Linked DNA regions of Homo sapiens. The protein of the gene in region 3 interacts with the protein of the main gene of each other region in a biochemical or structural test. Each region holds a gene or a part of one and is shown on either strand. Other genes may lie near its edges.

Region 1 (6,840 bases), on a different chromosome or scaffold from region 3:
AATCAAAAACACTCCTGGTCGCAAGCATTTTGGATAAGGGATACTCAACCTGTATCCATATTCCTAGACTTGGTTAATGTCATTACTTACATACACACTATTCATTCATTCAACACGTTTGATGAGTGCTCACCACAGGCACTGTAGTTATTGGGGATCTAGCAACTGAACAAAACAGTGAATAAAATCGCCTGTCCTCAAGTAGCTTTCATTCTAATTGGGGGATAAAAAAAATAAAATAAAAAAAAAGTAAAACATATGGTATGTAGATCATGGTAAGTGCTTTGAAGAAAGGTAAGATTGGGAAAGGGGAAGATGGAGTTGAGGTGTAATTTTAAACAGAATAATTGGGGAAAGCCTCCTGAGAAGGTAACATTTGAGTAAAGACCTAAAGGAAGTGAGGGAGTGAGCCATGGAGATTATCTCTGAAACAGTACTCCACAAAGAAGAAACAAATACAAAGGCTCGAAGGTGGGAGCATTCCTGGTGGGTTCAAGGAGAGGGAAGAGAAATAGGGAGTGAGGTCCAAAAGCTACATGGAAACCAGATCGTATAAAGCCTTGTAGAACACTGTAAGATCACTTTGGCTTTTATCATGGTTGAAATGGGAAGATGCTGGAAGATTTTGAGCAAACATATGGCATGATCAGTTTGGGTACTGTGTGAAAAATAATGAAGGAGAACAGGATTGTAAAAGCAAAGAGACCAAATAGGTTACTGCAGAAATTCATGGTGGACAGGACCTCGGAATAGCAATGACAACAGTCAGATCCTGGATGTATTTTCAGAGTAGAACTGACAAGATTTACTGAAAGATCTTACATGAGACATGAAAGAGACAAGTCAAGAAAACTTCAAGGTTTTTGACCTGAACAACTAAAAGGACGGAACTGCCATTAACTGATATGGAGTAGACTGAGTTCAGATGGGACGGCCAGACTAGGGATATAAACCTGGGAATCATCAACATACAGATAATACTGAAAGCTAAGGCGCTAGATGAGAACACTAATGGGACCCTGCAATGTTGAGAAGCTGGGAAGATGTGCAAGAACCTGTAACGAAGACGCATTCAATGAAGAACAACAGTAACACGGAGCAGGAGGCAACTGATTCTACCTATTGAACTGAAGGTATGGATAGAGGGGACAGTGAACCAGGAAGAAAGGAGATGGCTTGTGGGATGACCTTCAAAAGATCAATAAAGATTTTTCAGGAGACCAATAAAGATTTTTCAGGCAGGCAAAGCAAGAAACAGGCACGTTAGTTTACCTCTATCTTACTTTCCTCACCTGTAAAATGGAGATAATACATAATCACCTAATGCAATGCCTAACAATAGTAAATGCTCAATAAATGCCAACTATTATCTCATCCACCCAAATATTCTAGTATCTAGAATATTTAAGGACTGTGAGTTATCTCCCAAAACATTCTCCATAGGCATGAGGGAAATAGCTAATTCTGCATTATAATATATATACAAGGATTTACCTTCCTCTGAAAATAAGGCAGAATTCAATGACAGTAAAAATTTGATAAAAAATAGATCTAGCACTACCTAGTAATTCTGTAAAATCTTACTATGTTTATTTCTGCAGAAATACAAACGATTAGATTTTAATGATCTACAAAATTTCTGCATACAAGTTTACGGCCACGCAAATTTATTTTTCAAAAAGCTCTCTTGTATTGGTACAGTTTTACTGACACGTTATTTTAATATGTAGTATAGTCATCAGAAACACAGTATTAAAACAAATGGAGCTTCCATTTGTTTAAACATATACAACGAATGGCAGGTATGCCCCAAATCTTATTTGAACTTCCCTATATTTAGTTATGCCTGACTTCACCTGATAGGTTATACTAAATTATTTACTGGGAAAAGCAGAACGCAACTCAGTATCTTTTGTGTGTCATTACTAAATTGAAGTCTATCACTTTTTCTTTAAATGCCAAAGGAAGGAATCAAGTACAGCCCAAATCCCTTCTGTAGGTCATATGAATTATAAATTTATTTTCCTATTCATATTTATATCCAACAGAGCATAATTTCAGGAAACAGAATTCCAAGTATGCACATTCTTGATGCCTTATTTCTATTAGCTCCTCAGAATAAATTGCTTGAAAACTTTTAAGACAACTAGTTAACAAGTATAAACCTTTAGTTTGTAGCTAACAGGTATAAACCAAGTTGTCATGAGAAGTTTTCAAGTAAGGCAAAACTAATTTCTAAGACGGAAAAAAACCCAAAACTCAAGAGAAGAATATGTGCCTTTTTACATTTCTCTGCATAAATAGAAGCTATATAAACATGCTCTATTGAAGATAAAATATTATTTTAAAACAATGTGTCAAACAATTAAAATGAGAAAGCTATTAATTCATTTGTTTTGCCATTCTTCAATGCCTTCCAGCAAGCTGAAGGAGAAAATGTTTATCACCAGGCATTTTTCTGCAGGTACCCCCAAAAGACTGGTCCGAAGTAGAGAAGTGGCGCAAAGCAAGCCGCTGTGAAAATACCTAAATTCTCTGAGTGTCAGAAAATGGGAGTTCTCTTAAAAATCAAAACCAGGAGAACTGAACCACGCACAGAAACTCGGAGACCTCATAGGTGGCAACATAGATAAGAAGCTATCAGCTGCTAGATCTTGTTGTGATGGCCTTCTGATGCCCACTAGGAAGGAGACAAGAGCAGGGCCGTAGCAATCCGCCCACCGCTGAAGCTCCTTCTCCTGCACCACAGGAGGAACCGAGTCCTCAAGCTAATGGCAACTTCTCCCCAAAAACTCAAAGGGGAGGGGCTCTTGATGTTCTAGGGACTGGATTAAACTCCTGGAGATCGGTCTCTGAGCTGCACGCACCAGAGGAGAAGGATGTCGTCGGGGCAGTCACGAAGCTTCAAGGAGAAGAGAATAAGTCAGTACCTGTCTGCCTTTCCCGAATACTGGCTGCTGCTGCTGCTGTCGCTGCCGCCGCCGCCGCCATCTTGGCTCCCACGAGCCACTGCCCGGCTGGGGAGCGGAGCGGGGGGATGACGTGGCTGCCCTTACCGCCCCGGAAGCAAAGCCCGGAAGGGCGGGGCCAAAGGGTGTGCCTGAGTTCCGGACCCCACCTCCTCCAGGAAGACCTCCACTCTCGGTAGAACTGGGAGACCCGGTGCAGGTTAATTCAGTGGCCCGTAATGTTAGGCGAATACTAAGAGTTTTTATCCTACCGAATCAAGCCACACTCTCTCAAATGGTAGCAACATTAAATTGAGCTGTTAGGGTAGGAGCGTGTAGTGCTAAGAACCTAATTACTGAACTGTTGGTTTGGTGACTTACAGAGCACTTAAAGGGTGATAATGCTCTAGGAGTATAAGGACCACAGGACTGAAGTAAATGAAGCTCCTGAAACACAGGCAACATTTTAACGTTAGCTCTCGTTTCTCAGTGCAGCAGGAGTCTTCCCTTTGCTCCTTTCTCCAGAGAAACGGAAAGCATTGGAGCATTACTCTGATCTGGCATATTTCTCAGTCGCATCTCTTTAAAAAAAAAGGTGTAGCTTTATGGTGGCGTTCTGCCGGCATGGACACGGGATCCAGGGAGGTACAAAATGAGAAATTAGCATTTCTCCTCTTTCCTTGTAGTAATTGCAAAATCACCTTGCCGTGGGAAGGAAGTCAAGCAGTAGTGGGGTGTGTTGCCTAGGCTGGAGCGCGCAATCAGGGATCACTGCAGCCTCAAATTCTGACGGTCAAACGATCCTCCTGCTTCAGTCTCCCAAGTAGCTAGGGACTACAGGGGCACACCATCAGGCCAGGCTGATGTGCTGGTTTTTGTTGTTGTTTTGTTTTTGAGATAGTATCTCACTGTCTGTCGCTCAGGCTGGAGTGCAGTGGCAGAATCTCGGCTCACTGTAGTCTCGACCTCCCGGACTCAAGCGATCCTCCCAAACTATCCTTCCACCTCAGACTGCCCACTAGTTGGGACTATAGGCAGGGGTCACCACGCCCGGCTAAATTTTTTTTTTTTTTTTTTGTAGAGACGGGGATTCACCATGTTGGCCAGGCTGGTCTTGTGCTGGCGGTTTAATGTACACTTGAAGCCACGTGACCGCAAAATATATGGGATAGATGATTTCTAACTTAATCCATAGATTTTACTGTATGACCAAAATGGATACACAATGACACCTCATTTCCCGAGTTCATTGATGACGCTTCATTATGAAGTTGCACCAAATTCTGAAATGAAATCACTCTGTACCTCAAAAGCTTAACTTTCACAATTATATAAATGAAATGGTTAGCCTAACGATTATATATTGTTTTATAGTGTGAAACACTGGCTTTTTTCATTAATAAAAATTTATTTTTGTGACATTTAAAACAGGTTATCTTATTACATAATCTCTGCCGGGTGCGGTGGCTCACGCCTGTAATCCCAGCACTTTGGGAGGTAGAGGTGGGCAGATCACCTGACGTCAGTAGTTCGAGACCAGCCTGGCCAACATGGTGAAACCCGGTCTCTACTAAAAATACAAAATTAGCCGGGTGTGGTGGTGGGCGCCTTTAATCCCAGCTACTGGGGAGGCTGAGGCAGGAAGAACTGCTTGAACCTGGGAGGCGGAGGATGCAGTGAGCAGAGATCGCGCCACTGCACTCCAGCCTGGGTGACTGAGTGAGATTCTGTCTCAAAAAAGAAAAAAAAATTATGTAATCTCATTTTTATAGCTAATTGGCACATTCATTAAGAAATTAACTGGAATACATGTGTGTCTTCAGTACTATTACTAATATTTTGAAGGAATCTTCAATGATCTAGGTGTGTTCCAACTAAACAAATTATTTCTGCCCTATGGGAAAGTTCTACTGCATTCTACAGTCTCTATGAAATATAAAATGTCTGAGAGCCCAATTTTGCTCATTTGGGTACTTCCACTTTCAAATGCAAATCCATCATTGAGCCACTTCAGTTCCATCACAGATTCTCTCCCAAGACTATGAGTCATGTTAAAACCACGAAGACAATTTTAAAATTGATGTACACTGCATATATATGAAATGATAAAAACTCCTGACCAAGTGCACAGAATGTGGGCAATAAATTTATAGAAAAATACACCTCACAGAAGAACAGCAACCATAGACAAATAGCCCTTGTAAGGCTGAGACTGAATAAGGTATTTGTTTTATTAGAATCAGAAAGACTGAAAATAATCTATGGCTACAGATTGTTCATTAACCTAATTTACTATAGCCATTTATCTGAGTCCAGATTTTTGGCTTAAATAATTTATTCTGGTAAGCTATTTTACATTAGAGGATACATAGTTTTAACACAGATTCCCTCATTTCTATAGGTTCCTGGGTGTCAGACACTAACTGCTTGCTTATAGGATCTCTCAAATGTGGAGAGTAAAGGAATCTTGTATCTTTCAGTTTCGTCAGAATCTTAATCTTATTAAATCCCAAAAAATTACTTAGTTTAAATAGGCAGTTTACCTTTAGTGGCATAAACACATTTATTTATTTATAAAACATTGTTATAAATGTCACGCTTTTTGGTTAATCTGGCAGTCTTTAAAAGGGGGGGAAATAGGCTGACATATAAACGATCACCTAGCATAATACCTGGCATAGTGTAGGTACTGGGATATGTTTATGAATTAGAAGAGATAATGGTCAAAATCAGAACTTGAAAACTGAGTCTCTTCAAGACAATCCAAATTTTCCTAAACCACAGATAATATACATTCAAGTAATTCATCATTAAATGGGTTATGTTTTGTATTGCATTACTTGAAGCATGAAACTTTGTATTGCATTACTTGAACCATAAAAACTAGTTTAATAGCTTATTTTAAAGTAACAATGCAGTACATGATAATCACTATATAAAAGAATTACATGTTTATAATGTAATGATTTTGTTCTGATCATTTTCTTATAATGACTGAATGCTAAAGGCACAGTCACTGAAAAAACTTACCTAATATACTCCCCTTGACTTAGTATTTAGCACTGAATACAAAAGTTCCAATAGCTTCCATATAATTAGGGGAAAAATTTACAAATGCATAAAATAGAAACCAAGGTGAATTCTCATGCTGGTAATCAATCAAAGGCTTTTTACTTAACCCAAACAAAAAAAGTCACTTCCTCAAATTACAGAAACTAAAAATTACAAAGTATAAAATTGTAAGTTTCTGGTGAGATATTTTAAAGAATATCTTGAATAGTAGAGAATTGTATAAAAGGTGTTAAAGTTTCCATATTGGAAAGTGTTTAAAAACAATGAATATCAAACTAACCAAAACCATTAACAGTAGATGCATTATAGATCAATTTATAGTTTTCCTCAACATTAAGAGCAAGAGAAAACAGCCTTAAAATATACAACATTTAGGCAATTGCAATATTTAAGAAATATATGTACACATTTATAAAGATTTATAGCATAATTCTTTTTTAAAATCTAATGTAAGAATTATGCACTGGTTATAAAATTAATAAGAAAAGAACAATTATAATACCAACCATTTGACAAAATGACACTGCAGAAAATAAATAACCTACAGGTTTCTCTGATATTCCTTGACCATACAGATTAATCTAAAAATGGTAATAATGGAACATCCTTCAAACTAGAAAACATTTTGCAAAATAAATATTTATGCTTCACTTTAAAACATGAATATCCTAAATTATTTACACCATCTTATCACTAAGGCCCTGTCTATATATAAAATAAGTCAAATGAGGAATTGAAATACTGTTTTTAATTGTAGCTAACCCAAGTACACTGCCTCTCCACCTGCCACCCCCACCCCAACAAAGTATGTGTGTGTGAC
Region 2 (7,883 bases), on a different chromosome or scaffold from region 3:
CACTCGCCTTGGCCTCCCAAAGTGCTGGGATTACAGGCATGAGCCACTGCGCCCGGCCTAACTCACTTTATTCTTAAAACAACCGCAAGAGGGAGTACCGTCAATATTCCCAGTTTTAAGGTGAGTAAACTAAGGCAGAGGGATGTTAAGTAATTTCCCCAGTCACATAGTTCGACAAAGCTTCTTGGTGGGTGAAGATACACAGAAAATATTTTATTTTCTGAATAATCTCATTATCCAATATTCTTTACTCGGGTTGAAAACAGAATGAAGGGATAAAGGCACTATGTTAATAGTTAGGTAAGTACTTTTTTTTAAAGCAGTAAGTAAACTAAAATGATTCATATTAGTATGGCCCCAAATAATTCCATATTGTTTATACCACAGACAGGTTCACACAAGGGCCCTAAGATATATATACATGGATGTTATATATATATATATATATATATATATATATATATATATATATGGATGTTACATAACAAAACATGTTATGTATGGATGTTACATAACAAAACAAAAATCCATGTGTGTATATATATATGTATATATGTATATATGTATATATATGTGTATATATGTATATATGTATATATGTGTATATACGTATATATGTATATATATGTGTATATACGTATATATACGTATATGTCTATATACGTATATATATACATATATACGTATATATATGTATATATATACATATATACACATGGATGTTATATAACAAAACACTACAGCAGTGTTTTGATGGCTAATGACTGAAAATCTAAATGTCCATCAATGGGGACAGGCTAAATACTATTTTTATATTTTTACAAAGGACTGCTGTGTAGCCATGGAAAGGATGAGGTAGTTTTATACCCATGGATATTGAAAGTGCCTAATATACAGTACTAAATGGCAAAAGCATGTGTATTAGGATTCCACTTGTGGGAAAGACAGAAGGGGGTATATATTATCATGTGCTTTATTATGATCAGAAAGTTTCTTAAATATAACCAAGAAATTATTTACAGTGCTTACTTCTGGGAAGTGGGGAATGGAGATGGGTAGATCAGTAGATAGAAAAGAAAAAGACTTTTTTTACATTGTATCCTTCTGTATTAAATTTCCTTTTATCAAAAGCATATAGCTGATTTTAAAATAGCTTAATTAAAAATACAGCAATATAGAGCTTAGTCTCCTTTTACATAATGGTTTCTAACCACAGACTGGTATGTAATGATCAGTGGTATTCCTAATAGTAATTAACCTAGAGAAATTAATGAATGATTTATTTTATAAACAAGGATAAAGTCAACATCCCTTTAATTAATCCATTAATCAAAGGGAGAAAAAGAAAGGGGGCCTATAAAACTCAAGCAGAAGGTTGAAAAAAATCTTCTAAAGATCATGTTTAAGAAAGGCTGCATCCCAGAGTCTGGATGCCAGAAATGCCAACGACCTTCTTGAAAAACAAGGAAGTATCTTTACGTGATTGTCAAATTGGGTTGGGAGGTCCCAAGGTGTGGACAAGGCTTTTTAAAAACTTCATTCTTTTACGTTTATACTTTTGCATATTTCATATTATACACAACATATTTACAGTGGTAGTCATACACTATAAATAATTAAACACACAACATTTGGGGAGATGCATGCTCAAAAATGTTTTACTGATAGGGAGTGCAATTAAAAGGTTTGGAAGCTGCTGAGGTAGTAAAAAATATTGATGCAGTGAAAAGAAAAACATTAAATGGTCATTCTGTGGTCAAGGGATGAGAAGTAAAAGCTATGAAGCAGTTAATGTACAATGCCTGCAACTTTTGAGTACTCTTCAACTTTTTCCTGCATCTATTCCAAAACCAAATCCTGCCATTTTTCCAATAGGATATTTCCTGAGTTTGCCCCTTCATAACCATTCTGACCATCTAAATCTTATCAATTCACGCTTTTGGAAAGGCCTCTGGCCCTTATGTAAAGAGCCCTCCACTTGCTTGCATCTTGCACAGAACTGTAAAAAGGTCCTTTAAATGCTCAGACAGCTTCCAACTATCTCCAAAAGTGAAAGTACTTACCCATGATTGTAAATATCCCTGTCCCACTCTCAAACTGTCCGCTCCCCATAGACCAACTGGAGCTCTTTAAATAAGTCAGACAAATATATTCCTCATTCCTCAAAGGACTCACCCTCCCTTTCACATTCCGGTTGTGCAGATTAAACATACTCCACACCATCAAACCAAGTTATTTTTCCTCGAGAACTCTCTTAGAGGTTCCTTTTTCTCTAACAGCCTGCCCACCTCTGATTCCTGGGATTTTCGTGTTGACGGGATCGTTGGGATCTTTCCTCTCTTCTCATCTTTCCAGTAACCCATTAGCATTAGCAGGATTATTGGACAGGCCTCCGTTTGCATTAATATCTCCAATGATTCTGTGATCTCCGCCCTAAAGACCTTTGATTTCTTTTGGTCGCGCCTCCCCTTCGGGACACCAAGTTTGTTTAGGGCCTGAGCACAGGGGCCCAGCAGGTTCTTTCCGACGTCAGCGGCTGCGTACGGAGGCCGACTTAGGCAGGCCGCTCCAGGAACAAGGCCGTGCGGACAGGACTGACCTAGGCGCTTTTCCCCGTCGCTCCCAGAGGAGAAACGTACCGGGGAGGGGACAGACCGTGAGCAAGTGGTCCAAGTCTGCGCAGGGTGACCCCGAAGGCCCACCGGAGAGGCCGAGGCTTGTGGGCTACTAGAACTAGGCCTGGTAGGTGAAGGAGGCGGGTGAAGGGCCGGATCCAGGACTGAATCCGGGAGAGGCGGGGCGAGGAGGGGACTCCGGTGTAGCTGCTTGGGCAGCTCCCGCGGCCCCTCTGGCGGGGGTGACCGTTATTGGACTCGCAGAGGGAAGAGTTGGGTAGCGTCCCCTACTCACCTAGAAGCGCTGCCGCCTGAGGCTCCAGCTGCCCCCCTCCCAATTCAAGCCACGTCAGCTCGGGAAGCCCGTACGCGACACCTTCCACCGCCGCGCCCCGCCAGGGACTCAGCCACTAGCAGTTGGGACGGAAGATGGGATTAAGACACCGACCAATCAGGACTATCGGCAGGACGTTACCAGGGAGACCAGGCACACCTTGTTTGTTACCAACCTATCAACAATGACGGAAACCAATCAACGACAGAAGATGCTCCGCTTCCTCAAAGAAACAGCCAATGGACCCTAAAGAGTGAATGAGGGGAGTGATTAGACGCGAGTAGGTGCCCCGGAACAAGATCTGGGGAGGGACAGGAAGTGTCGAGTGGGCGGGCGTTCTGGGAAAGGTCAGATGTTCTCAGTGTGAAGTGGTTATGCTGGCTTCCTCCAATTCCTCCTCTTCGTCGGTTGTGACTGACCGAGACAGCGGCTTGGGCTTCGGCAGAGACTTGAGACTGCGGGCACCCGCTGCCATTAGGATTGTTGAATGAGCTGTGAGAAGGGAGTGGGGGATATGGGACTCTTAGATTGAAAAAATACTGGAGCCTCTTAGTTGTTCGTCTAGTTTCACCTTTTGATTTTGTTGATGAAAAATAATTAACCACAGAAGTAACTTGCCCAAAGTCAAACAGCGACTTAGTGATGGAACTCGGACTAGAACCCGGTGTCAGTATGAAAGAGGATCAGCAATGTCTGTAAGGACATGATTGTGAGAGAGAGAGTAGTGAATACTAGGAAGGTGCCTCTTACAAAGTGGAGCCTAAGCCAGGACCTAAGCAAAGATTGAGAGTTGAGGGCTCAGGCTCTGCAATGAGTGTCAGTGAGGAGCTCCAGCAAAAGACTGAAATCACTCATGCTTTCCTTAAACCCCTAAGGAAAGGGAAGGAAAGTAGCCAGTTTCCAATGAGCTGTCATTTCAGGCACTCTCTTGGCAATAAGAGTAATGTTAGTTTGAATTTATTGAATCTTGCTGTGCACTCAGCTGGCCCATTGTATGTATACTCATCTTAATGATTACATAACTTCACAATTCAAACATCAGCTAAGTAAGGCCTTTCCTGGCTGCCCATCTTACGGAACTGGAGGTCATTATTCTAAGTGAAATAAGTCTGGCACAGAAAGACAAATATCCCATGGTCTCACTCATGTGGGAGCTTAAAAAGTTGATCTCATGGAGTAGAGATAAGTACCAGAGGCTGGGAAGGTGGAGTTGGGGGAGGGAGGGAAGAGATTGGTTAATGGGTACAAACGTAGATAGAAGGAATAAGTTCAAGTGTTTGATAGCACAGTAGGGTGACTATAGTTAACAATATGTTATATATTTCAAAATAACTAGGAGATTAGAAATGTTCCAAACACAAAAATGATAAATGTTTGAGGTGATAGATATCCTAAACACCCTGATTTGATCATTACACATTGTATGCATATATCAAACTACCACACCCCATAAATATGTACAAATATGTATCAATACAAACATAAATAAAATTGCAATTTCCTGCATGCACTATATACTTCTTCTTTGCTTCTTTTTCCCCTAAGCATTTTGCCATCTAAAGTACTATATATTTCATTTATCTGGTATCTCTCTTCTCATTAGATTATAAGCTCCAGGAAGGTAGTAATTTTGATCTCAGCTTTATCTCCAGGTCCCAGAAAAGTATAGAGGAGGGCACTCAATATCTGTTAAATTAATAAAGTATATATGATTATCCTTATCTTAAATGTGAGACAATAAGACTTCAGAAGGTTAAATAATTTGCACAAGGTCACATGGTGAGGGGCAGAGACAGAATTTGAATGCTGCAGTACTTAATGAATACATCATATTCTTATATCCCTGATTGTATCCACCCAGCAAAGTCCTAAACCTGCATCAGTCCAACCATTGGTCTCTACTTCTACCTTTGGGGAGCAAAATGCTGCAGGAGACATCAGGACAATGTCATCAGTGACATCAATGTCCTGACCACTGCACATTCAGTTTCCAGCTGAACTCCATCTTCAGCACACTCCCAAATCCTTCTTGTCTTCAGCTTCCTCTCCTATTTGCCACAATTATTCAAACCTTTAACATCCTCTTTAAGTCCCAACCCCGTGTCTACACTTCACACTCCTAGCAGATGAACTTGCTTCTATCTTAGAGAAAATAGAAGCCATCACTGAGAGTCCTATTGTACTCCCTTACACAAAATTTACCTTTCTACATACTTATTTCCACATTCGACCTTAGAATTTACCTTTCAGTTTTAACAGAATGAAAGTTTCTTATGGGAGACGAGATTAGAATTTTTTCTGTCTAGTAGGTCTTCTTATAGCTCTACCTTCTATTATTGGGTGAGCACAGTATGGTGAGAATTATAGTGAACACTAGGGGTGTGAAGGAAGAAAATGAGGTGGAGAAGTTAAAGAGCAAAACATATTATTTCTAAGTTCACTGAAGGACTGGAAATAATTTAGAATGCAACTTAATGGAAGCAATTTAGGCTCTGAGAGGGTGATCAAGATAATAAAAGATAATTAGGGGTTGCCCCAGCAAAAAAGAGGGTACAGAATAGTGGAGGTAGATGGAGCAGCATGTGCATGGACCATTTGGGCAATTTGACATAAGTGATATGACTGAATGGTTAGGCAAAGAGTAGGTCATAAAATTGTGCCATTTTATGCTAAGGGGTTTGGATATGACTCTAAGCTCCAGAGCAGTTAGAGACTGCAGAAATCACAGAAGTGTGGAGTCATTCAGGTGTCCCTTAGAGAGTGATCATTTCCCTAATTGAAAGTACAGGGAGGAAAAGTTGAAAGACAAGAAATGTCACATTCTCTGTGATTTACTGTTGCCCAATTCCCTCTCCCCTTTTTCAGTTCTTTCCTCATCATCATCTTACCTTCCTCTATACCAAATGCAAACTTATTCCAAAACTTTCATGCAGCCTTATTTATTAATGTATCTTCCATACCTAACGTATCTTCAGCATAGTATATACTCAATAAATATTTGTTAAATAAAATATCCAACATAGAATTCTATATGAATAAATCTTAAAATCTTGGAGAAATAAGAAATTGTCTTGAAAAATATAACTTTGAGACATATCAATTATATGCAAAAATATACAATCACATGATCACATCAACCAATGAAGAAAAATATTTTCACAAGAAGAGGGAAGGTGGGGAAAGAAGAAGAGGGATGGTGGGGAAAGAGGAAGGGAGATGAGGGGGGAAAAAGAAGAAGGAAGGAGAGGAAAGAAAGGGGAAAGGAAGACGGAAGGTGGGGAAAGAAAAAGAGGGATGGTGGGGAAAGGGGAAAGAAGAGGGATGGTAGGGAAAGGGGAAAGAAGAAGAGGGATGGCAGGGGAAGAAGAAGAGGGAAGGTGGGGGAAGAAGAGAGGGAAGGTGGGGATAGGGAAAAGAAGCTGAGGAAAGAAGGTGGGGAAAGAAGAAGAGGGAAGGTGGGGGAAGAAGAAAAATCAACACCCATTCATGATTAAAAAAAAAAACTCAGAAAACTAGGAATCGAAGGATATTTACTCAACTTGATAGAAAAATATTGCAGATTCTTAATGGTGAGAAACTGGATGCTTTCCCTCTAAGATCAGGAACAAGGTAAGGATGTCCCCTGTCACTACTCCTAGGTGACATTATACTAAACCTCCTGCCTAATGTAAGACAATAAAGGGAAATAAAAGATATTCATACTAGCAAGTAATAAATAAAACTGTCTTTGTAGATGGCATGATTTTTTATGTAAAAAATATCTAAGAATAAACAAAAACCTCCTGGAATTAATAAGCAATTTTAACGAGGCTACAGGGTAAAAGGTCAATTGCTTTCCTCAGCAAAGAACAATTGGAATTTGAAATTAAAAACACAATACCATTTACATTAGCCTCAAAAAAAAAAGACGAAATAAATACTTAGGCATAAATCTAACAAAATATGTACAGGCTCTATGTGAAGGAAACTAGCAAACCTCTGATTAAAAAAATTAAAATCTAAATAAATTGAGAAATATTCCATATTCCCAGAAAGCATCAGTATTGTTACGATGTCAATTCTTCCCAACTTTATCTGTAGATTCAATAAGATCTCAATCAAAATCTTAGCACATTATTTTGTGGATATCAACAAATTAATTCTGAATTTTATATGAAAAAGTAAAAGACCCAGAATAATCCACAGACTATTCAAGAAGAACAAAGTTGGAGGACTGACGTTACCCAACTTCAAGACTTACTACACAGCTACAGTAAACAAGACAGCATGGTATTGGCTAAAGAATAGACAAATAGACCAATGGAACAGAATGGACAGCCCCAAAATAGATCCACATAAATGTAGACAACTGATCTTTGAGAATGGAGCAAAGGCAATTCAATGGAGAAAAGAGTCTTTTCAATACATGGTGCTAGAACAACTGGAAATCCACATGCAAAAAATGACACACACCTTATACCTTTTATACAAATTAACTCAAAGTGGATCTTAAGATGTAAATATAAAATGTAAAAATATAAAACATCTATAGGATAATTTGAGACTCTAGGTGACTTTGAGTTTGGTGATGACTTTTCAGATACAACACCAAAAGCATGAGCCAATGCGGGGGGGAGAACACAATAAGTTGGACTTGATTAAAATGAAAAACTTCTGCTCTGCAAAAGGCACCGTTAAGAAGATTAAAAAAACAAGGCACAGACTGGGAGAAAATATTTGTAGAATACCTATTTGATAAAGGACTGTTACCTAAAATACACAAGGAACTCTTATAATGCAAAAATTTTAATTAAAAAAATTCACAAGTGGGCAAAAGATCTGAACAGACACCTCACCAAAGAAGATACACAGATGGCAAATAAGCACACAAAAAAATGCAGCCGGGCACGATAGCTCATGCCTGTAATCCCAGCACTTTAGGAGGCCGAGGCAGG
Region 3 (7,030 bases):
GAACAGCCAAAGCAATCCTAAGCAAAAAGAACAAAGCTGGAAAAATCACACTACCCCACTTCAAACTATACTACAAAGCTACACTAACCAAAACAGCCTATTACAGACATGGAGCAATGGAACAGGATAGAGAACCCAAAACTAAAGCCACACACCTACAACCATCTGATCTTTGACAAAATTGACAGTAACAAGCAATGGAGAAAGGACTACCTATCCAATAAATGGTGCTGGGATAACTGGATAGCCTTATGCAGAAGAATGAAACTGGGCCCTTACCTTTTACCATATACAAAAATTAACTCAAGATGGATTAAAGACATAAATATAAGACCTAAAACTATAAAAAGCCGAGAAGAGGCTGGGCATGGTGGCTTACGCCTGTAATCCCAGCACTTTGGGAGGTCAAGGTGGGAGGATCACGAGGTCAGGAGATCGAGACCATCCTGGCCAACATGGTGAAACCCTGTCTCTACTAAAAATACAAAAATTATCTGGGTGTGGTGGTGTGCATCTGTAGTCCCAGCTACTTGGGAGGCTGAAGCAGGAGAATCGCTTGAATCCGGGAGGCAGAGGTTGCAGTGAGCCAATCGCACCATTGCACTCACTCCAGCCTGGGTGACAGGGCCAGACTCCTACTCAAAAAAAAAAAAAAAAAAAAAAAAAATCCTCGAAGAAAATCTAGGAGATATCATCCTGGACATTGGCCTTGGCAAAGAATTTATGACTAAGTGCCCAAAAGCAATTGTGACAAAAACAAAAATTGACAAGTGGGACCTAATTATACTAAAGAGCTTCTGCACAGCAAAAGAAACTATCAACAGAGTAAACAAACAACTTATAACCTGGGAGAAAACATCTGCAAACCATGCATCTGACAAAGGTCTAATATTCAGAATCTGTAAGGAACTTAATTCAACAGGCAAAAACCAAAAACTCTTAAAAAATGGGCAAAGGACATGAACAGACACTTCTCCAAACAATACATATACATAGGCAAGAAATATATGGAAAAATGTTCCACACCACTAAATCATCTGACAAATGCAAGTCAAAACCACAGTGAAATACCATCTCCCACCAGTCAGAATGACTATTATTAAAAAGACAAAACAAACAAACAAAAAACAGATGTTAGAGAGGTTATAGAGAAAAGGGAATGCTATATACTGTTGGTGGGAATGTAATTTTAGTTCAGTCACTGTAGAGAGCAGTTGGGATATCTCTCAAAGAACTTAAAACAGAACTACCATTCGACCCAGCAGTCTCACTACTGTATTTTTTCAACAAATATTTGTCATGCAGCTAATACAGACTTAATTTATTTTTTTTAATTTTTTTTTTGAGACAGAGTCTCACTGTGTTGCCCAGGCTGGACTGCAGTGGCGTGATCTCGGCTCACTGCAACCTCTGCCTCCTGGGTTCAAGCTATTCTCCTGCCTCAGCCTCCCAAGTAGCTGGGACTACAGGTGCCCGCCACCACGCCCGGCTAATTTTTGTATTTGTAGTAGAGACGGGGTTTCACCATATTGGCCAGGCTGGTCTCGAACTCCTGACCTTGTAATCTGCCCGCCTCGGCCTCCCAAAGTGCTAAGATTATAGGCATGAGCCACCGCACCCGGCCCTACAGACGTGATTTTATGATATAACCTTACCTTCATGAAGCTTAAAACATTCCTAAAACAGAACTCCCCCAACTATGACTTTTTTTTTTTTTTTTTTTTTTAGATGGAATCTCGCTCTGTCGCCAGGCTGGAGTGCAGTGGCGCGATCTTGGCTCACTGCAACCTCCAACTCCCTGGTTCAAGTGATTCTCCTGCCTCAGCTTCCCAAGTAGCTGGGATTACAGGCACAGGTGCCACCATGCCCAGCTAATTTTTGTATTTTTAGTAGAGACGGGGTTTCACCATGTTGGCCAGGATGGTCTTGATCTCCTCACCTCGTGATCTGCCCGCCTCAGCCTCCCAAAGTGCTGGGATTACAGGCTTGAGCCACTGCGTCCAGTAACTATGACTATTTATTGTAAGACTAAAATAATCCATGCTAATAGTCATTTCAATTATAATGTTTTTAATGAAATAAGGGAAAATAAAGAAAAATAAATCATTCTATCAAAAAGCCATATGCACTTGCATATTCACTGGAGCACTATTCACAACTGCAAAGATGTGGAGTCAACCTAGGTGTCCATCAATAGTGGACTGGATAAAGAAAATGCAGTACATATATGCCATGGAATACTATGTCGACATGAAAAAGAATAAAATCATGCCCTTTGCAGCAACATAGATGCAGCTGGTAGCCATTATCCTAAGCGAATTAATATAGGAACAGAAAACCAAATACTGCATTTCCTCACTTACAAGTGGGAGCTAAACAATGAGTAAGCACGGACCTAAAGATGGGAGCAGTCAACACTGGGGACAACAACGGGGGGAAGGTGGGAGAGGGGGCGAGAGTTAAGAAACTACCCATCAGGTACCATCCTCACTACCTGGGTGATGGTTATACATCAAACCTTAGCAACAGGCAATTTACCCATGTAACAACTTGCACATGTAACCTTCTAAAACTTTAAAGTTATGGGGAAAAAATATTGTTTAGAGAAATGTTTATTTTCATAAACACATTTGCTTATGAAACAATACTAATTTACGTTTAATCGTTTATAAAAATATAAAAGCAAAAAAATTAAAGGACACTAGTGTAATACAGCTTGCAGTATTTTTTCACAATTCTTTTTTTTAAGTATTCAGTAACTACTTAACTGACAGGAAAAAATAAAGAACAGGAATGGCAATTAAAATGCTAACTCTAATCAATCAATCATTTATCCAACAAATATTTGTCAAGCACCTAATATTGATTTAATTTTATGATATAATCTTACCTTGAAATTTAAAACATAGTTGTACCTTCCTAAAACAGAATTTCCCTAACTGTAAGACAAATAATTCATGCTAATAGTCAATTCACTTATGTTTTAGATGAAATAAAAATATTATTGTTTTAGATTACAAAAGTCATTTTTTTTTTTTTTTGAGACGGAGTCTCACTCCATTGCCCAGGCTAGAGTGCAGTGGTGCGATCTTGGCTCATTGTAACCTCCACCTCGTGGGTTCAAGTGATTCTCCTGCCTCAGCCTCCCTAGTAGCTGGGATTACAGGCACCTGCCACCATGTCCAGCTAATTTTTGTATTTTTAGCAGAGACAGGGTTTCGTCATGTTGGCCAGGCTGGTCTCAAACTCCTGACCTCAGGTGATCCACCCGCCTCAGCCTACCAAAGTGCTGGGATTACAGGCGTGAGCCACCAGGCCTGGCCCAGAAATTTGTTTTAAATTTAACTCTGTTACTGAGAAGACTTTATTAAAACAGCAAAAGCAAATCTTATCTTCATATGACCTAAATTATTATAATCTATAAAAAGAGATGTGGGAACATTAAAAAATCAAACACAAGTCTCTTTGTAGACAAATCCAATGAATCCATTTCCATTATAGTTACCTTAAGTCAGCCAAGTAATATACTGCTTCATTTATTCTCCATGCTCTTTCCCATAAATGAACTATGCTTTTCAAAAGGACATCGTTTTAAGCAAGGGGTCATAATGAAACATGTCTACCAAATAACCTATCACAAATGCTAGCATCTCAAAATCTAACACCACAAAAGTTTTTCTGTAATCCCAGCACTTTGGGAAGCTGACAGGAGGATTGTTTGAGGCCAGGAGTTCAAGACCAGCCTGGGCAACATATTGTGAGCCTGTCTCTTTAAAAAAAAAAAAAAGTTTTCAAATTAATGGTGAATAACTTTTGACACAAAAAATGTTTATGGCACTTCTGCTTGAGGTATAAAAATAATAAGCATAACTTTACTATACCTACAACAGACAAAAAGCAGAGTACAAAGCAGTAATATTAATAATAAAAGGTAAATACATAAAAAGAAAGAGGAACAGTATTTGGTATCAACAAATGTATATAAGGAATTCTAATATTCTTTCCTAATCAGATTCAAGAGTAATGTTTTTAATGAAATAAAGGAAAATAAAGAAAAAGGCATCAGAATTATATATCCTCTTGGACAATTTTTCCCTAAGTATGCTTCTCAAAATAATAGATAACAAAGTTCCCTAGAGGAAAAAAAAAGGTCTGGTCAGATAAATTTGGCAAACAGCTTACTTTTTATCTACATTTTAAAAATATCTGAAACTATAACACAGTGCCTGCTTACAAAACCTTGCATAAATACTAGAGGTTTTTTCTTTGTTAGTGGTCGTTGCACACACTTCTTTGCTGACAAAATTTTTTTCATGGACATCTATTCAAATTTTTTGAAGCATACCTTGGTAATGCTACGGCATGTATAATTTAAATGATTCTAACTTTTAAATGAACCCTATATAATCTACAAAATTAACCTTCCAAAAAGCCATGTAGTATTCAATAGGCCCTACTTAAAAAGAGTGCTTCGATATAGAAATGACCAAAACACAAATCATTATTACAGTTCTCTCCGACATTGTTATTGCAAAACAGGCCAAGAGAGAAAACACATTCCAGTTATGACATTGACCTGGTTATTAATGTAGAATACATCAACCCAAATAGGAATTTCAGACTACACATTTATAGTAACATGGTATAAAATGTGCTTGACTAAACGAAAACTATGTCTAAATTTAAGTCCACACTCTTTAATAACAATTTTTATTAAAAGAAAATATGGCTGTGTTTATATTGTTAGCCCTTCTGCTTTCTGAGACAGCTGATGAAAGTTTGATCTGGAAAGAGACCCCATAACAATGTTCTAATTCTGTATGCTTTTTCTGGACATTAGCAACTTTCATGTCTCGGGGTCCAACTTGAGAACAGAAAATGCCTCTATGATTCATCATCAAATGTAGTTAACACTTGCTTGGAATTTTCAAGAAACTAGCTTTAAAAAAGGTACAAGTTGGGGGCTGGGCGCAGTGGCTCACGCCTATAATCCTAGCACTTTGAGAGGCCGAGGCGGGCAGACTGCCTGAGCTCAGGAGTTCAAGACCAGCCTGGGCATCACAGTGCAACCCTGTCTCTACTAAAATACAAAAAAATTAGCCTGGCGTGGTGGCGTGCACCTGTAGTCCCAGCTGCTCGGGAGACTGAGCCAGGAGAACTGCTTGAACCCAGGAGGCGGAGGCTGCAGTGAGCCGAGATTACGTCACTGCACTCCAGCCTGGGCGACAGAGCGAGACTTCGTACCCCACCCCCCTACCCAAAAAAAAGGTGCTAGATAGAAGGCAGATATAACACTAAGCACACATAAGCTTACATTCAAAAGCATGAAGTCCCTGGTGGTCTAGTGGTTAGGGAAAAAGAGAAAACTAAAAAACAAAAGCATGAGTAGGATTTGTACTATAATAATATGCACCCAGCAAACTGTGTCAAGGCTAAAGAGGCTTCAATCACCAGAAATCAGTGTCAAGTAAAAAAGAGAAATGAAATGTAAAAGTACCCGACTCTGGGGCCAGGTGCCGTGGCTCACACCTGTAATTCCAGCACTTTGGGAGGCCAAGGCAGGCGGATCACGAAGTCAGGAGATCGAGACCATCCTGGTTAACACGGTGAAACCCCATCTCCACTAAAAATACAAAAATTAGCCGGTGTGGTGGCAGACACCTGTAGTCCCAGCTACTTGGGAGGCTGAGGCAGAAGAATGGCGTGAACCCGGGAGGGGGAGCTTGCAGTGAGCCAAGATTGCGCCACTGCACTCCAGCCTGGGCCACAGAGCGAGACTCTGTCTCAAAACAAAACAAAACAAAAACAAAAACAAAAGTACATGACTCTAAAACAGAAAAAGTTTAATGTGGATGAAATTCTGAATTTAAAATATCCAGTACTTTATAGAATTGACTATCCTATGATAAAATATTTACTACTTGACAGGTTCTCAAGAACATCTTTCTTTTTGAGACAGTCTCGCTCTCTCGCCCAGGCTGGAATGCAGTGGCACAATCTTAACCACTCAGTGGTTGCTCACTGCCAACCACCGCCTCGATTCTCCTGCCTCAGCCTCCTGAGTAGCTGAGATTATAGGCATGTGCCACCATGCCCAGCTAATTTTTGTATTTTTAGTAGAGACAGGGTTTCACCATAAAAATGTGCTTGACTCCAGAAAGGAGTTTGGCCAGGCTGGTCTCAAACTCCTGACCTCAAGTGCTCCATCTGCCTTGGCCTCCCAAAGTGCTGGGATTATAGGCGTGAGCCCCCGGCCTGAAGAACATCTTAATATCAGTCCAAAGTTACTCTTAACTAAGAGTATGAAAAGCTAGATACTATACAATCAATCACATAACTCTCACACATTTAAAAGATACTTAAATTCAATAAGAAAAAAAAAAACAAGAAAGCAGTCAAAGCATTTAGTAAATATGAAAAAATCCCTTAAGTAAAAAGCTTGACACAATGAACTTCATTTGAGAACTTCAGTTTCTAGTCTTTAAAAAGTGTTTTAGTACCTAGTAACGTAAGTTGCTATAATTACAGATCTGTGATTTCTTTCAAATAAAACTATAATTAATTCATTTCACAAGTATTTACTGGGCATCTACTACTGTGGAAAAACAAAGATTAAAATACATTATGAACCCTGCCCTAAAGACACTTTAAGAGTCTAGAAGGAATAAGATATATGCACACTGTAGTTAAAATGTAAAGGTAGCTCAGAAAGGAAAAAGCATCTGAAACGTGCTGGGGGAAAGTACAGATTAGGGGAGGCGCTGATGATGAATTTAAATAACAGGTCTAATTCAGACAAAGAAAAGAGCCCTTCCATTGGAAAAAAGATGTTAGAAAAAGCAAGAAAGATGGAAAGCCACCATGAAAAAAATTTAATTTTGCAGAAATGGAAAAAACTACAAAATAATAAATGATAATATAGAAGCTAGGGGTTCCAAGCTCTGGTAACTCAAATATCCTGGCCAGACTAAATCATCAATTAAAACATCTAAAATTGTATATACACTCCACTGATGCTCTATAAATACTT
Region 4 (5,715 bases), on a different chromosome or scaffold from region 3:
AAGGAAATGGAATATTCACACATTACTGGTAGGCACGGGCATTGGCACAATTGCTTTGGAAAAATGTCTGACAACATATCTTAAAACTGAGTATGTGCATCACCTATAATCCAACAATCTTATTCCTAGGTATAAGCAACAGAAAAGTGTACATGTGTGTCCCAAAACCCATGTTCGAGAATGTCCAGAGCAGCACAATTTGTAATAGTTCCAAACTAAAAATAAAAGCTATCGGTCTAGAATGGAATGACTAAATAGAATGTGTGTACTTATAGAGCGTGGTTCTCCACCTCTGGCATGCATCAGAACCGCTTGGAGGCTGGTTAAACTGATTGCTGGGTTCCACCTGTCTATCTACACAGAACCGACCTTATATTTCCCCGCTCAGCTGCCTTTATCAAAATTAAGGATGTCTGCTGATCACCTCTTGAATGTTCTCTCCTCTCCCACATCAGCAAGAGGGAAAAAAAGAGGCAAAAGAGGCCCGGTTTCTCGCTATTAGGACAAACCCAAGGATATCTCTTATGTCAGGTGAGCCCTGTACCCCTGGCTTTGCTGAGATGCTTATGAGCATTTCCTCACATAACCCTGACAATATAATCAGGGCACAATTATGGTAGCCATCCTTATCACCATTTTATAGAAGAGGAATTGATCACTGGCTGGATTAATTGCAAAGCTCTAAAATTAGACAGTGGGGCTGGTTGCACAACTAATGTACTAAAGCCCAGCAGTACACGATTTTTAAAAAATTAATTTATTTTTGAGACAGGGTCTCTGTCACCCAGGCTGGAGTACAGTGGCACAATCGTTGCTTACTGCAGCCTTGACCTCCTGGGCTCATGATCCTCCTACCTCAGCCTTCCGAGTAGCTGGGACTATAGGTGCACACCATCATGAATGGCTAATTTTAGTTTTTGTAGAGACAAGGTCTTTGCTGTGTTGCCCAGACTGGTCTCAAATCCCTGGTCTCAAGCAATCCTCCTGCCTCGGCCTCTCGAACTGCTGGGATTACAGGTGTTAGCCACTGCACCCAGCCAATTCTACAATTGTAGATTCCCATTATGCCTCCTGAAGTTTCATGTTAAGAGATTCCCCTTCACTTCTAGGGCTAAAATACTAGTGGACTGTTCATATGATGGTTTCTGAATGACATGTGACAGCTTTTCAGCACCTGTATTATTTCATCCTGGGTTTCAGGACATCATGAGAAACACTTATCAACACCAGAGATACCATAATCTCTATCCCCAAACTACCTTGATGGTTACTGTTTCAATATAAACAATTACAAATGCAATCATTTAGATTTCTAATTTATTATTAAATTACATACCAAAGCTTCTTCTATACAGTCAGAAAATGCACATTTAGATGAGAACAAAAATTAAGTACAAATACAATAAAATTGGTTCCAAGAAGCTATTTTAAAAGCAAAAACTTACAAAGTGCATTTGGAAAACAATAGGTTTTAAAAATCTGTATTGGCATTTTTTCAAGAGGAAACATCTTCCATCACAGGAAAGTATGGTTGGAATTGATTTCCCTCCTCCCTTAAGAGCTAACAGGGTGGGAATGGATGCAAATACCTTGATATTAAAGTGAGCTCTCAGGTATCTTTTAATTTTTTTTGCAGAGACAGAGTCTTGCTACATTGCCCAGGCTGGTCTCAAACTCCTGGCCTCAAACGATCCGCCTGCCTTGGTCTCCCAAAGTGCTAAGATTACAGGCGTGAGCCACTGCACCCAGCCCTATTGTCATGGTTTTTCATATTTTTTCAGTGAAATGAAAAGTTTTGAGTGGTTACTTAAAAGGACCAAAAAGGAAAGATTCATTATAATAAGACAATAGTTGAGGGGGCATAACTTCCCCTAAGAGGTAACATTTGGATCCAGAAGTAGAAAATTCCTTCTGACCTCCTGGCTGTGACTAGCATTAACAAGTAACTAACTGTTAGCCTCTGAATCTGGTAACTGGTCCGTAAGGAGGACAGCAAAAAAGGAGAGAAAGCCAAGGTGGTTAAACAAAAAAGTTAAATGACATGGAGCTGAAAGAGCTCAAATCCCTTCATGGGATCCCCACGGAGCCCCTTCCTGTGGACACACACCTCTCTTCCCTTGCTGGAGGTTTCTTTCTGCAAAGAAACCCTAAGAGGAAAAAGCACTGGCCTAGCTGTCTACATGTGGCCCTGGGTCACCTTAGTATAGGCTGCAGCACGGAGAGGTTAGTCAGACCTATCTGACACCAACATCCATACCAAGCCTTTTAACTTCCTTGGAAGAACTGGTTTATTTTCATAAAGAAAATAACCAACATAATTCCATTACTTCACATAAGCAAAACCCTAATGGAAAGGCCCATCAGCCATCAACAGGGTTTGCTTGGCTGCAGTGAGCTAGACTAGCTTGTGTCCCAGTTCACTCTCACACAATCAGCTTTAATGAATGCACAAAAGAATCAGACCAGTAAAAAAGACTGGTAGTATAATTAAATAAATAACTTTATTTATGATACTTCAGATTTTATAAATGCCAACTACATAGCAAAGTCCCATAAATTTTAACCGAGACACAACCACCAATCAAGGCCCTTTGAAAAATCAAAGATAATAAAGTGTCAAGGGAGAAAAGTTTTGTTCTCCCAACAGAGAATTTAATCAATGAACTTACTTCTCTGATCATTTAAGGTTCACAATGGGAAAACTTCTTTTCTTTTAAGGGTACCCTGAATCAATTAACAGTCAATCAACCCACATTTAGAAAAATAAACCCCATAGTTAAGAAAAATATATCAAATGCCCTTCACACCCATAATGTAACAAAACTTTGACACCAGAATGAAAAACTTCTCAGTCTCTGTACCAAACCAGGTGTTAGTCCACCCATGAGCAAGTTCGCCTGAATAACAGCATCTATACACCATGATGTAGCTGAGAACTACAGCTGATATCCTTTTATTGCCTGTGGCTCGGACTGAAGCCAATACTATAAATACCACAGTGAATTCCAATGGTGAAGAGCAGCAGTGTAGATGTTGGAAGTCTACAAACCAGGCTGTAGTTCAGTAAGACAAGTCATGAATTTACAGAAACTAAGAAATGGTTAACTCGAAAAGAATTCTGGTGGCTGGCTTAAAATCTGTCACTGTCCAGGGATGGTAACAGAAGACAGGTGCAGAGAGAGACAGATTCTGCCACATGCACCCTCAACAGTGAAACCATTCTCTGGATGTTTGGAAATGCTTAACAGATTTGGAATGAACAGATTTTCACAGAACTCAGGATTCCTGGTACATCAGGCAGTAGTCCTTAAACTTTTGCCCATACGTTGTGGAGCATTTACAAAAGCAATTCTCTGGACAGTGAGCCCTCAATGCCTTTTTATATGTGGCTTCTTGAATAGATCACATTAGAAATTGAGCAGTCCCCTTCCTCAGCTACCAGTGTCAATGCTGGTATGAGGAGGAGCAGTGGGGGCACTGACAGACACTGGTGATTCGTTTCTTTTATCATAGTGGAACTGAGATTTCATTTCTTTTCAGTAGAAAATATTAATCCAAGGGAAGAATTAAAAAAAAAATGGAAACAATGACTGGTGCCTTAAATATAAGACTGTCATTCTTGATGTTTTTCCAGCAATACAGTTAACCCCAGTGTACTTGTAATTTAAAAGAAAAAGACAGTTTTACAGTGATCTCCATTTCAGACAACCTCAAACATGCTGAAGCTGGTCCATCAGCATCTCAAAGAATCTATGAAAAACAGAATTTTCCCCAAATATCAACAGAGTTGAGGAGACAGAGTAGAAATCTATAGCACAGATCATCAAGAAAGAACTTGTGATTTCTCATTATGAGTGTAAAATAAGAGGACAAGAATTATTATTATATTATTTTTTTTTTAATTGATCATTCTTGGGTGTTTCTCGCAGAGGGGGATTTGGCAGGGTCATAGGACAATAGTGGAGGGAAGGTCAGCAGATCAACAAGTGAACAAAGGTCTCTGGTTTTCCTAGGCAGAGGACCCTGCCGCCTTCCGCAGTGTTTGTGTCCCTGGGTACTTGAGATTAGGGAGTGGTGATGACTCTTAAGGAGCATGCTGCCTTCAAGCATCTGTTTAACAAAGCACATCTTGCACCACCCTTAATCCATTTAACCCTGAGTGGACACAGCACATGTTTCAGAGAGCACCAGGTTGGGGGTAAGGTCATAGATCAACAGGATCCCAAGGCAGAAGAATTTTTCTTAGTACAGAACAAAATGAAAAGTCTCCCATGTCTACTTCTTTCTACACAGACACGGCAACCATCCAATTTCTCAATCTTTTCCCCACCTTTCCGCCTTTTCTATTCCACAAAACCGCCATTGTCATCATGGCCCGTTCTCAATGAGCTGCTGGGCACACCTCCCAGATGGGGTGGTGGCCAGGCAGAGGGGCTCCTCACTTCCCAGTAGGGGCGGCCGGGCAGGGGCGGCCGGGCAGAGGCGCCCCCCACCTCCCTCCCGGACGGGGCGGCTGGCCGGGCGGGGGGCTGATCCCCCCCACCTCCCTCCCGGACGGGGCGGCTGGCCGGGCGGGGGGCTGACCCCCCCACCTCCCTCCCGGACGGGGCAGCTGCCCGGGCGTAGACGCTCCTCACTTCCCAGATGGGGTGGCTGCCGGGCGGAGGGGCTCCTCACTTCTCAGACAGGGCGGCTGCCGGGCGGAGGTCTCCTCACTTCTCAGACGGGGTGGCCAGACAGAGACGCTCCTCACCTCCCAGACGGGGTCGCGGCCGGGCAGAGGAGCTCCTCACATCCCAGACGGGGCGGCGGGGCAGAGGCGCTCCCCACATCTCAGACGATGGGCGGCCGGGCAGAGACGCTCCTCACTTCCTAGATGGGATGGCGGCTGGGAAGAGGCGCTCCTCACTTCCTAGATGGGATGGCGGCCGGGCAGAGGCGCTCCTCACTTTCCAGACGGGGTGGCGGCCGGGCAGAGGCTGCAATCTCGGCACTTTGGGAGGCCAAGGCAGGTGGCTGGGAGGTGGAGGTTGTAGTGAGCCGAGATCACGCCACTGCACTCCAGCCTGGGCACCATTGAGCACTGAGTGAACGAGACTCCGTCTGCAATCCCGGCACCTCGGGAGGCCGAGGCAGTCAGGCGTGGCGGCGCTCGCCTGCAATTGCAGGCACTCGGCAGGCTGAGGCAGGAGAATCAGGCAGGGAGGTTGCAGTGAGCCGAGATGGCAGCAGTACAGTCCAGCTTCGGCTCGGCATCAGAGGGAGACCGTGGAAAGAGGGAGACCGTGGGGAGAGGGAGAGGGAGAGGGAAGAATTATTTTTATTCACAATCCAATCTGGCAGCTAAAAGAAAAGCAGTCTTTGGATGTAGAAACCTGGTTTTCTGAAGAGCCCAGCTGTAAGACCTGGCTTGTCATTAGGCTTCAACACTATCATGGAAACACAGAAAACTCTGTTTTTGATTGGTTTACCTGCCTCCTAGGGAGACAAAAGCAACTGAAAACCTTTTTTTTTTTTTTTTAATTAAAAACAGAAAAATGTGTTAGAAAACACAGCACAGAGAAACTGTGGCTTCAGCTCAACCTGACCATGTCACAGAGTCCATCACTGTCAGTCTTGCATTCATCCTGCTGGTCAGGCTAATTATCAAGACAGTCAACTTCTCCCTCCGATGTTTCCTTATTCCAGACCAGGGTGTGAAAGCGGTGGCTGTCA

Evidence for each region.
Region 1: the proteins of USO1 (region 3) and SCFD1 form a complex in vitro, tested with the Homo sapiens proteins (one study listed by BioGRID).
Region 2: the proteins of USO1 (region 3) and GOLGB1 form a complex in vitro, tested with the Homo sapiens proteins (one study listed by BioGRID).
Region 4: the proteins of USO1 (region 3) and GOSR1 form a complex in vitro, tested with the Homo sapiens proteins (one study listed by BioGRID).

What each region holds. Positions count from the first base shown.
Region 1 is NC_000014.9:30,618,490-30,625,329, reverse strand, and holds the start of SCFD1 (sec1 family domain-containing protein 1), read right to left. Parts: upstream 3,012-6,840; 5' UTR 2,992-3,011; coding exon 2,931-2,991; exon of another isoform or gene 2,868-2,930; intron 1-2,867. UniProt on the Homo sapiens protein: Plays a role in SNARE-pin assembly and Golgi-to-ER retrograde transport via its interaction with COG4. Involved in vesicular transport between the endoplasmic reticulum and the Golgi.
Region 2 is NC_000003.12:121,746,722-121,754,604, forward strand, and holds the start of GOLGB1 (golgin subfamily B member 1), read right to left. Parts: upstream 3,021-7,883; 5' UTR 2,911-3,020; exon of another isoform or gene 2,289-2,910; intron 1-2,288. UniProt on the Homo sapiens protein: May participate in forming intercisternal cross-bridges of the Golgi complex.
Region 3 is NC_000004.12:75,727,573-75,734,602, reverse strand, and holds part of USO1 (general vesicular transport factor p115), read right to left. Parts: intron 1-7,030. UniProt on the Homo sapiens protein: General vesicular transport factor required for intercisternal transport in the Golgi stack; it is required for transcytotic fusion and/or subsequent binding of the vesicles to the target membrane.
Region 4 is NC_000017.11:30,522,400-30,528,114, reverse strand, and holds the end of GOSR1 (Golgi SNAP receptor complex member 1), read right to left. Parts: 3' UTR 523-5,715; downstream 1-522. UniProt on the Homo sapiens protein: Involved in transport from the ER to the Golgi apparatus as well as in intra-Golgi transport. It belongs to a super-family of proteins called t-SNAREs or soluble NSF (N-ethylmaleimide-sensitive factor) attachment protein receptor.